Regions from separate parts of the Homo sapiens genome. Here region 2 is linked to region 1. Evidence: fine-mapped expression QTL. A gene starts in region 1. The other region holds a variant in brackets. All regions are shown on one strand. Distances are between the middles of the regions. Region 1 holds the start of KCNA3 (potassium voltage-gated channel subfamily A member 3). Region 2 holds the start of LOC105378901 (a long non-coding RNA gene).

What was found. PIP is the estimated chance that this variant, and not a neighbour inherited with it, causes the effect.
Region 2: its variant is fine-mapped to the expression of KCNA3 in thyroid (GTEx, PIP 0.96).

The regions. Positions count from the first base shown.
Region 1 is chr1:110,672,254-110,677,253 of GRCh38, reverse strand. KCNA3 (potassium voltage-gated channel subfamily A member 3) reads left to right here and starts at 2,314. Exons shown (of 1, transcript NM_002232.5): 1 at 2,314-4,789. The coding sequence starts at 2,445. The coding sequence ends at 4,172. RefSeq lists silencers at 2,189-2,248, 2,319-2,368, 2,479-2,578.
Region 2 is chr1:110,771,894-110,777,417 of GRCh38, reverse strand. It overlaps LOC105378901 (a long non-coding RNA gene), which reads left to right and starts at 3,074. Exons shown (of 3, transcript XR_001737801.2): 1 at 3,074-3,229. The variant C/T (reference allele first, on the strand shown) is at 2,911.

The DNA.
Region 1 (5,000 bases):
TGATCAACACAAGCGTTGCACAGTGTGATACAGTAAAGCAAACACTGGATTTGGAAATGGTCCAAGATTTTAGGCCCAGCTCTGCTGCTAACTAGCTATGTGAGCTTAAGCAAATTGCTAAACTTCTCTGGGCCCCAAATACAAAGTAAGGACTTTATATGTGTCCTAAGAAGCACATAATCAAAGTCTTCCAGACAAGGCAAATACATGAAAGGGAATGGAAATAGTCACTTATGAAGGAAAGACATTTCACAGCTGGGAGAAGCTTGTGACCATTTGTCACAGGACTATCCTCTGCTCTGGTCTTCCTTGCCATTGATTAATATTAATTTCAGTACTAATTCCTGCAAAAGAAGGAATAAATCATTTTCTAAGTCAGACATAGAAGTACATGAAACATCTGGTCTTTAAAAATAGGGTCTTTGCCTTTCCATGAGCTATCATTGCAGCAAGCAGTCTGTCTCATTCTAAGATTTAAATATATGAATGATTGATTATACTGCTACTCTAATCACCAGCTCAAAATATATACGCAAAATAATGAGGTGGCTGTCACATTCCAGTGTTCTGGAGTTTTGTAAGAGAAAGAGTTTTACGTGGTTGCCCAGTTTTGCCATTCCACAACATAAGTGACTGCCTGCATTGTCTGGCACTGACCAGGAGGTGAAACGGAAGATGAAGGGACAATAAAAGGACATGGGTGCCTGTTGTGCCCAGGAGAGCCGGAGGTGGAAATCCTATGGAATAAATGAGCAGTGTTTTCTATGGTGAGCTCAGTTTTTCCTCACTCCTCATCCTAGGAATCACAGCAGCATCTTGGGCTCAAAAAGAAGAAATGTTGAAACTCCAGAGCAGATAGCAACGCAAAGAGACACTCCTTGGGGAATTCAATCTGACAAGTATGTACCAAGTCTCCACCATTTACAAGGCACTTTGGTAGTTGCTAGAAATATAAGTTGGCTAGGACCTACTCTGTGCCCTAGAGAACCCCATGGTTGGGAGTGGTGGTGGGAAGTATTGACCACAAATCACTTACTTAAAATTGAATTGTCAGCTAACTTTGGGTGGGTGAGGAGCTGTCTAGACAATAGTTCCTCTTCTGTAAATGATTTGAATGATACAATAAAAAACAGACTTTTTAAAGCCTAGGGTTGAGTTATATTAGATTGCTAAAATTTCTGGAAACAAATTGTGTTCAAAGTAACCACAATAATTTGGAAAAATAAGTTTAAAGAAGATACATGTAAGTTATCTCTGGGCCCAGATCAAGCAAGAGGTACAAGTTGCAGAATGAATGTCCTTCCAGTTTAACAACTAGAGCGCTGCAAATTCCCTACCACAAGGGCAGTGCCAAAATATTAAGTAAAAAGTCTAGGTACAGGTCCTGCTCTCATCCCTTCCACGACAGGCTTGAGTCATAAAGCTGGACTTTCTAACCACACAACTTCGACTTCGTGAATTTCCTTTCCCATTTTTCCTCTTATTTCCCCGCCAACAGGAAACCTGTGTAGTGGATAAAGACCAGGCTGTCACTGCTAATCCCAATCAGAAACTTGGTCCTTGATTCTTCCCAGTGGCCGACATCTCCGCTGCGAAAACGGGTGTGAACTATTCACTAAAGCAGCAGGGCCCGAACGCCTTTAACAATCCATTTCCTTCGGACTCCGTTTGCGAAGCCCATCAGCACCCATTACTCCCTTTGGCTTCGCATCCTAGCAGAAGCTAAATTGTTTAAACCCCCGCTCCTCCCCAGGGTTTGGCGGTCCTCGACCCTCAAGGGAACCTGGGATGCCGGCGCCAGGCTTGCCTCTGGCCCAGGGCGCCCGCCTGGCCTGCACTCCCTCCCTGGACACTGGGCCCGCCTGCCCTCCCCGGGCTGTACCTAGGGGTGTGGAGGCCAGGGGGCCGGCGCCCGCGGGGCCGCGGCGGGAGCTCTCCCGGCCCACGGGCCGAAAACCCTGGCGACTGGGACGCGGCCAGGCGGGCCGGGGGCGAGGGGCGCTGACCAGAAGCGGGCGGAGCCTAGGGGCCCGGGCCGGCAGCCTGACTCCCCGTGGGCCGGCTCTGCTGGGTGGGCATTCCCGCGGGGCGCCGAGGTACAACATGAGGGCTCTTTCGCTGACACCGAGGGGCCTTGAGGGCTGCAAGAAATGCAGGCCCGGCGGCTGCCCCCGAGAGCGGGACGCGCGCCCGCGCGGTGGGCGGGAATCCTAAGGGGACGCGGAGGCGGGCGCGCGCCCCGCAGGGGAGGGGGCGGAGAGCGCGAGAAGGAGGGAGGAGGCGTCCCCGTGCGGGAGCCCGGCTGACCGCGCCAGACCCAGACAGAGCATCGCGGCTTTGGCTGCAACAGGCGGTGGGCTCGGCTCGGGGGCGGAGGCGGCGAAAGGGCGGGGAGCGCGAGGAGGAGCGACCTGGCCTCACCGCTGCCGCCTCTTCCCCGCCGCATGGACGAGCGCCTCAGCCTTCTGCGCTCGCCGCCGCCGCCCTCAGCCCGCCACCGCGCCCACCCTCCTCAGCGCCCAGCGAGCAGCGGCGGTGCCCACACGCTGGTGAACCACGGCTACGCGGAGCCCGCCGCAGGCCGCGAGCTGCCGCCCGACATGACCGTGGTGCCCGGGGACCACCTGCTGGAGCCGGAGGTGGCCGATGGTGGAGGGGCCCCGCCTCAAGGCGGCTGTGGCGGCGGCGGCTGCGACCGCTACGAGCCGCTGCCGCCCTCACTGCCGGCCGCGGGCGAGCAGGACTGCTGCGGGGAGCGCGTGGTCATCAACATCTCCGGGCTGCGCTTCGAGACGCAGCTGAAGACCCTTTGCCAGTTCCCCGAGACGCTGCTGGGCGACCCCAAGCGGCGCATGAGGTACTTCGACCCGCTCCGCAACGAGTACTTCTTCGACCGCAACCGGCCCAGCTTCGACGCCATCCTCTACTACTATCAGTCCGGGGGCCGCATCCGCCGGCCGGTCAACGTGCCCATCGACATTTTCTCCGAGGAGATCCGCTTCTACCAGCTGGGCGAGGAGGCCATGGAGAAGTTCCGCGAGGACGAGGGCTTCCTGCGGGAGGAGGAGCGGCCCTTGCCCCGCCGCGACTTCCAGCGCCAGGTGTGGCTGCTCTTCGAGTACCCCGAGAGCTCCGGGCCGGCCCGGGGCATCGCCATCGTGTCCGTGCTGGTCATCCTCATCTCCATTGTCATCTTCTGCCTGGAGACGCTGCCGGAGTTCCGCGACGAGAAGGACTACCCCGCCTCGACGTCGCAGGACTCATTCGAAGCAGCCGGCAACAGCACGTCGGGGTCCCGCGCAGGAGCCTCCAGCTTCTCCGATCCCTTCTTCGTGGTGGAGACGCTGTGCATCATCTGGTTCTCCTTCGAACTGCTGGTGCGGTTCTTCGCTTGTCCTAGCAAAGCCACCTTCTCGCGAAACATCATGAACCTGATCGACATTGTGGCCATCATTCCTTATTTTATCACTCTGGGTACCGAGCTGGCCGAACGACAGGGCAATGGACAGCAGGCCATGTCTCTGGCCATCCTGAGGGTCATCCGCCTGGTAAGGGTCTTCCGCATCTTCAAGCTGTCGCGCCACTCCAAGGGGCTGCAGATCCTCGGGCAAACGCTGAAGGCGTCCATGCGGGAGCTGGGATTGCTCATCTTCTTCCTCTTTATTGGGGTCATCCTTTTCTCCAGCGCGGTCTACTTTGCCGAGGCAGACGACCCCACTTCAGGTTTCAGCAGCATCCCGGATGCCTTCTGGTGGGCAGTGGTAACCATGACAACAGTGGGTTACGGCGATATGCACCCAGTGACCATAGGGGGCAAGATTGTGGGATCTCTCTGTGCCATCGCCGGTGTCTTGACCATCGCATTGCCAGTTCCCGTGATTGTTTCCAACTTCAATTACTTCTACCACCGGGAGACAGAAGGGGAAGAGCAATCCCAGTACATGCACGTGGGAAGTTGCCAGCACCTCTCCTCTTCAGCCGAGGAGCTCCGAAAAGCAAGGAGTAACTCGACTCTGAGTAAGTCGGAGTATATGGTGATCGAAGAGGGGGGTATGAACCATAGCGCTTTCCCCCAGACCCCTTTCAAAACGGGCAATTCCACTGCCACCTGCACCACGAACAATAATCCCAACTCTTGTGTCAACATCAAAAAGATATTCACCGATGTTTAATATGTGATACAAGTGACATGCTGTGCTCAGTATTGTGTGGAACGTGCCCCCTTGGTCTGCCTATGCCCTTGTTTTATACATTTCCAGACCATTCATCAAGGAAAGGACCTGAAGAAGTGGAAAGCACACTTCATTCTCCCTCTCCCTGCTGCTTCATACTGAAACAGGTGCCTGTTTTGCAAGTGGGCTGCATTCTCTCAGCTCTCCTTTTCCCTCTTACCCTCTCTCTCTTAACATTGTAAACAACAGACTTACGTTAAACTTCATTTCTAGTACACGCCCTATTTAAAAAAGAGCAGTACATCCTGGGAGGAAATGAAACTAAAGAACAGTTAGAGTAACTGTTTAACCTCAGAATTTTAAAGGCAGTTGTTTCTTTCCTAAGCACATCAATTCGTAGTAAATGATGCTTCGGTTTGATGGACCTTTCAACGTTATTTATTGAATATGTATTTCGGTTGCCTACCCTGTAGATATGTGGATGAAGAGTCTAACTAGAATAATGACTTGTAAACCCACCATGAGTTATTTGGTTTTTGACTTAAATTCCTATTTGAATCCCCTTTCCCGGAATTTTAAGTGTCTCTACAACTTTGAATAAAGGGAAATGCCCAAGATGTCCTGATCTGACTAATTAGTTTAATTCTTTCGGGCTTGCTAAGCATTTCTAAAGCATTAGACTAACAGATTCCTGTGAAGTTCTGTGCATATGTCCCAGCCCCAACAACTATCAAAGTCTAGAAACAGATGTTTTCAGTGTTGCTGAGAGAAACAAAAAATTTCCTAATGCATCTGAGAGATAAGCTTCGGCAGTATCACAAGAAGATT
Region 2 (5,524 bases), 100 kb before region 1:
TCCTACTCACCCAATCTGGCAAACACAAGTGCCTGCTTGCAGATGACAACACAGATCATCATGCCTACTCAGCTGCTTGCCAGACAGTTGGTCAGGGTCTCCCATTGCTGGTCAGTGGGTAGAGAGAAAAGGAAAGCCATGAGTCAATTTGGCTTCTCTAAGGCGCCACAGACTGTGTTGCTGTGTTCCTCCATAAATGTAAATTTACAACACATCCTTTTATCACAGTCTGGTTTGCTTTAGGCTGCCTTATTTCTGAAGCTGAAGGACACAGTGGTATTTGGACACATCCAGGAAAGGCCTGGCAAATGGTGACTGCTTTTGACCCCAAAGAATCCCACAGTAATTTGGCTCCACAGTGAAAAGTGACCCAGGCTGGGTACTCTCAAACATCCCTCCACCCAGCATATTAATTATTCATAATGTCCTTAAATACTCTTCTGTGATGAAATGTTAAGTGACACATTAAATATTCATCATGATGCATCTAACACAGGGCCAAGGGTAGAATTAAGCAGAACAAATGTGATTTCTGATTATATCTCTTTAATTCTAGGCACTGAACACCCCCAGGCAGCTAGGACTCCCATCCTATTCTGAAAGGAAGCCAAGAAAGTAGATTCCACAACATCCCTTTATGTGCTGCCAAACTGTCTTTAAAATCTTGGCAAGAAGTCCTTTCCTTTCCTTTTCTTTATTTTTTTAACTTTTAAAAATTAAAGTATAATTTATATGCATATATATATGCACCCACATAACCAACACCTAGATCAAGATATAGAACATTTCTAGCAGCCCAGAAGTTTCCCTCATGCTTCTTCTCAGTCAATACCCACCTCCCTGTGCACACACGTGTGCGCACACACACACATCACTATTTGACAGGAAGTTGCTTTTAAATCTAACTTAATCCTTATTTGTGATTGCTGTTCACTTCCTATCATTTTAACTTTGAAGGCAAAGGCCAGGTAGGCCATTGATTTGAAGCTTACTAAAGTGGAAGGATGGAGTATAGGGATGGAGTATAGGAGGCTTTTGGAGGAGTCCAGGCAGAGACGATGATGGCTTGGTCTGGAACCACTGGGGTGAAGCTGGAAAGAAGGAGAGACTTGTTGGGGATGTATTTGAGAGGTAGAGGTAATAGGATTTGAAATGTGACATGAAGGAAAGGAAGGAATCCGGCATGACCTGTAGGTTTTCACTTGAATGTCTTGATGTAGGGGTTACCATTTGTTGGGAAAGGCAAGACGGTGGAGGGGCAGGTTTGAGGGCAGGGTGAGATCAAGAGTTATGTTCGGACTTGTGGACTTGAAATAACTGTTAGGCATCCAAGTGTAGAGTCCAAGTCATCCAGAGATCAAGGAGCTAGCAGGCCTGGAGAGAGATGTATATTTGGGAATCATCTGCCTATCGATGGGTTTTAATGCCTGGAAATGGCATGGAATCACCCAGGACATACAGAGCAAAGAACAAGATCCAAGACAGTCCTGTGCAGACCCACTGCTGAAGCAGTCTGCCTCAATCCTCAAGCCAAAGGGGTGGTTCCACAATCAAACTAGAGGCAGGTGCCTAGGGTAAGAATTGAAGCCATGCTTTCAACATTTTAAAAGTCTTGTTTTGTTAATAAAAACAATCAGGCAGACATGTGGATATTTTACTCTAGCTGGAGTTAGCTACCTGTATAATTTTTAAATATCTGTACATGTGTCTCCATTTTTCTTCTATTTTCTTTCAAATATTTTGGTGTTTACAACCAGGCCCACTTTCTCATCTCGACATGGATTATGGCAGGTGCTTGAGAAGTTTCTGGAGGAGATGTCCAACACAGAAATGAGTTTCATTTTTATATAATTAGTAGAAACATAAGATACAGAAAATTGTGCTGTTCACAGAATTTGATTGGAAGGGCTATGTGATCGAGGGCAATTTACTTAACTCTCTAAGCCATCGTGGCCCAATAGAGCTTTCTGAAAATGTTCTAGATCTGCACTGTCCAACGTGGCAGCCAGTAGTCATGAGTCTATTGATAACTTGAAATGTGACTGTTACTCAGAAACTAACTTTGTATTTTTTTTTTTTCCTGAGATGAAGTCTTGCTCTGTCACTGAGGCTGGAGTGCAATGGCGCAATCTCGGCTCACTGCAACCTCCGCCTCCCAGGTTCAAGCAATTCTCCTGCCTCAGCCTCCCTAGTAGCTGGGATTACAGGCACCCGCCACAGTTTCTGGCTAATTTTTGTATTTTTTAGTAGAGACATAGTTTCACCATGTTGGTCAGGCTGGTCTGGAACTCCTGACCTCAGGTGATCCACCCACCTCTGCCTCCCAAAGTGCTGAGATTACAGGCATGAGCCACCACGCCTGGCCACTTTTTAATTTTAATTAAATCAAATTTAAATAGCCGCATGTGGCCAGTAGCTGTTGTATTGAATAGAGCAATTCTAGGTCTTTATGCTCAACTATAAAATAAAGTGTTCATGCTAGAATCAATCTCTAAGCTTCCTGACATAGTTCCCAGTGCAGTGGCACATATTAGGCACTCAATAAATATTTGTTGAATAGATGTTTGTAGAATGAAAGTTAGCCAAATGAATAAAGATGTGAACAAATGATTAATGTGTCATCATGGACTATCATAAATAGAATTAATTTAGGATAACTTCTTGGAAAACCAAGAGTTTTGGAGGCTGAAAAGAAACTCTGGCACTGGCTGCAAGTGGGTGGGAACTCTTGGCAGTCATTCATGTGGGAACAGAACCAGGTAGAATCCAGATCACACTTGCCTTTCCACTTCCTCTATACTTGGAAAAGCAGCTTCCTCTTTGGGAGTATTTTCATAACCCAAGTCTCCCAGTGGGAAGGACTCTCAGTGCTGGAACTACAGGATGGGAAGAATGTCAGGAAAGAGGGAA[C/T]AATTGTTAGGAAGCCACAGTGATGGCTGCCAACACTTGCATTCCTATGTGCAGGAAAGACTTCCTTCAGACACAGCTCAAAATAGCCACTGCCCCCAAATTTGCTGGTTAAAATAAGTCGGTAAGTCACAACCACCCATCTTGGCTTTGACTCTCTCTTCATTTCTGTCCTGAGGAGTCTCTCCCTTGTCAACATGGATTATGGCAGATGCCTGAAAAGTTTCCAGAGGGGCTGGCCAACACAGGAGGCAGGGTCCCTGTAGCTAGAAGACCCAGCTGAAAAATTTGCCTTCGACGGAAACATGAACATGATAGGCGGGTGAGAGTAGGGGCATCGTGTATTGGTCTCTGTCTCCTCCATGAAGGAGCACTGCATCTCCACCACACACAGTTCTGCTCAGAACCAAAGCTGGCAAGCTTAGCTAGGCTTTCTCTTTGTCTCTCTCTCTCTCTCTCTTTCTCTCTCTCTCTCTCCTCTCTCCTCTCTCTCCTATCTCTCCTCTCTCTCCTCTCTCTCCTATCTCTCCTCTCTCCTCTCTTTCTCCCTTTCCTCTCTCTCTCTCCTCTCTCCTCTCTTCTCTCTCACCTCTCTCTCTTCTCTCTCTCCTCTCTCTCTCTTCTCTCTCCTCTCTTCTCTCTCACCTCTCTCTCTTCTCTCTCTCCTCTCTCTCTCTTCTCTCTCACCTCTCTCTCTTCTCTCTCTCCTCTCTCTCTCTTCTCTCTCTCTCTTCCTCTAATCTATGAACTTTTGTTTTTTTTGGTGGGAGGGGGTGATTCTTTATTGTGGTAAAATGTACATAGCAAAATTTACCATTTTAATAATTCTTGAGGGTACAATTCCATGGCATTACCTACATTTACAATGTTTTACAAGCATCACCACTATCCATCTCCAGAACTTTTTCATGGTTCCAGACTGAAACTGTGTACACATGAAACACTAACTCACCATTGCCCACTCCCCCAGCCCCTGGTAACCACCATTCTATTTTCTGTCTCTGTAAATTTCATTACTCTAGGTACTTCATATAAATGGAATCATAAAACACTTATCTTTTTATGATTGGCTTATTTCACTTAGCATAATATCTCTAAGCGTCATCCATGTTATAGCATATGTCAGAATTTTCTTCATTTTAAGGCTGAATAATATATTCTATTGTATGTTATGCCACATGTTGCTCATCCACATTTGGGTTGCTTCCACTTTTTAGCTATTGTGAATAATGCTGCCGTGAACATGGGTGTACAAGTATCTGTTTGAGCTCCTGCTTTTAATTCTTTGGGGTATAGGCATAGAAGTGAAATTGCTGGATCATATGGTAATTCTATGTTTAACCATTTGAGGAAATGCTTTTATTTTTAAAGCCATTCCTAAATTCGTTTTTTATCCTTTAGTTCTTGAATTTTATTTCTAATTCTCAACTCCTATCTGTATGTATGCTTTCAGCATTTCATATCCTAGGTCTTACCTTTTCATCTAAAAGCTCAATTTCTTATTTCTTTTTACTTTTTAAAACAACTAATGAGTACTAGGCTTAATACCTGGGTGATGAAATAATCTGCACGACAAACCCCCATGACACAAGCTTACCTCTGTAACAAACATGCACTTGTACCCCTGAACTTAAAATAGAAGTTAAAAAAAAAACTGTAGCTGCTAGTCTTTTATTTTAAAACTCATCTATGTTACCTAATCTCACATGTGTTTCTTTAATCTATAAGCTTTTTGCTTCATTTTTAAACCATCTCCAACGAGTCCTTTTTATTTCAGTAGTTTATTTTTTTAACCTAAACATTGATATAGTTGACTTCTTGTATCTGTGATGTGTCTTCCACGAATCTGTCATATTTCTGAGAGTTATAAATGTTTCTCTTCTGGAGTGCTTTATAAGGGGCATTGGGAAGGTTATACTGAATGGGGGAGGAGGAAGACAGTGTGATGGGGGTTTGTCGTGGATCAGGTTCCCTGGGAAACAGACTCTGAGACAGATTTGCATTCAGAAGGTTTTTGGGGGAGGGCATTCAGAACACCTGCAAGGAAGTGAGAGAAGCAGGACAGGGTGGAGGGAGAAGTCAACTGGGATGCAGTTGAAACAAAAGCCTTAGTCCCCCAGGGAGCTCTGAAACTGGGATGGCCTTTCAGAGATACATATCCCAAATTGAGGCTGGGGGCTGGGCCTTTATTCATTAGAAACTTGCATGTACCAGGCAGCTTAATCTTGGGTAAGGAAGTTCCTTCCCTGGAGGGTAATGCTGGGGGAGGACTCTGTGTACACTGTCACTAGGTGAAGCTCCTAGGGTGGGGCTGGGTGAGCTTAGGGAGCACCGCAGAATCCACCACAGGTTCTCAAAAGAAAACATACTGTATTCCAGGGAGGTAGGGCCCCATACTCCAACTCAGTGAGGGCCAGTCAGTCTGGGGGAGTGTATTAAAATTATCTGGGCAGAAAATTTGATAGGCCTCTCCCTGCCAAGCGTGCATAGTTTGAAGAGGTAAATCTGATCTTTCTACCCCAGCACCCCTTCCCAAAGTGGAGAACCACTAGCCTAGGCCAAACTGACAATACCTCAACTTCTTATAAATGGCTTCTACAAGGGTTGAGTCTATTTA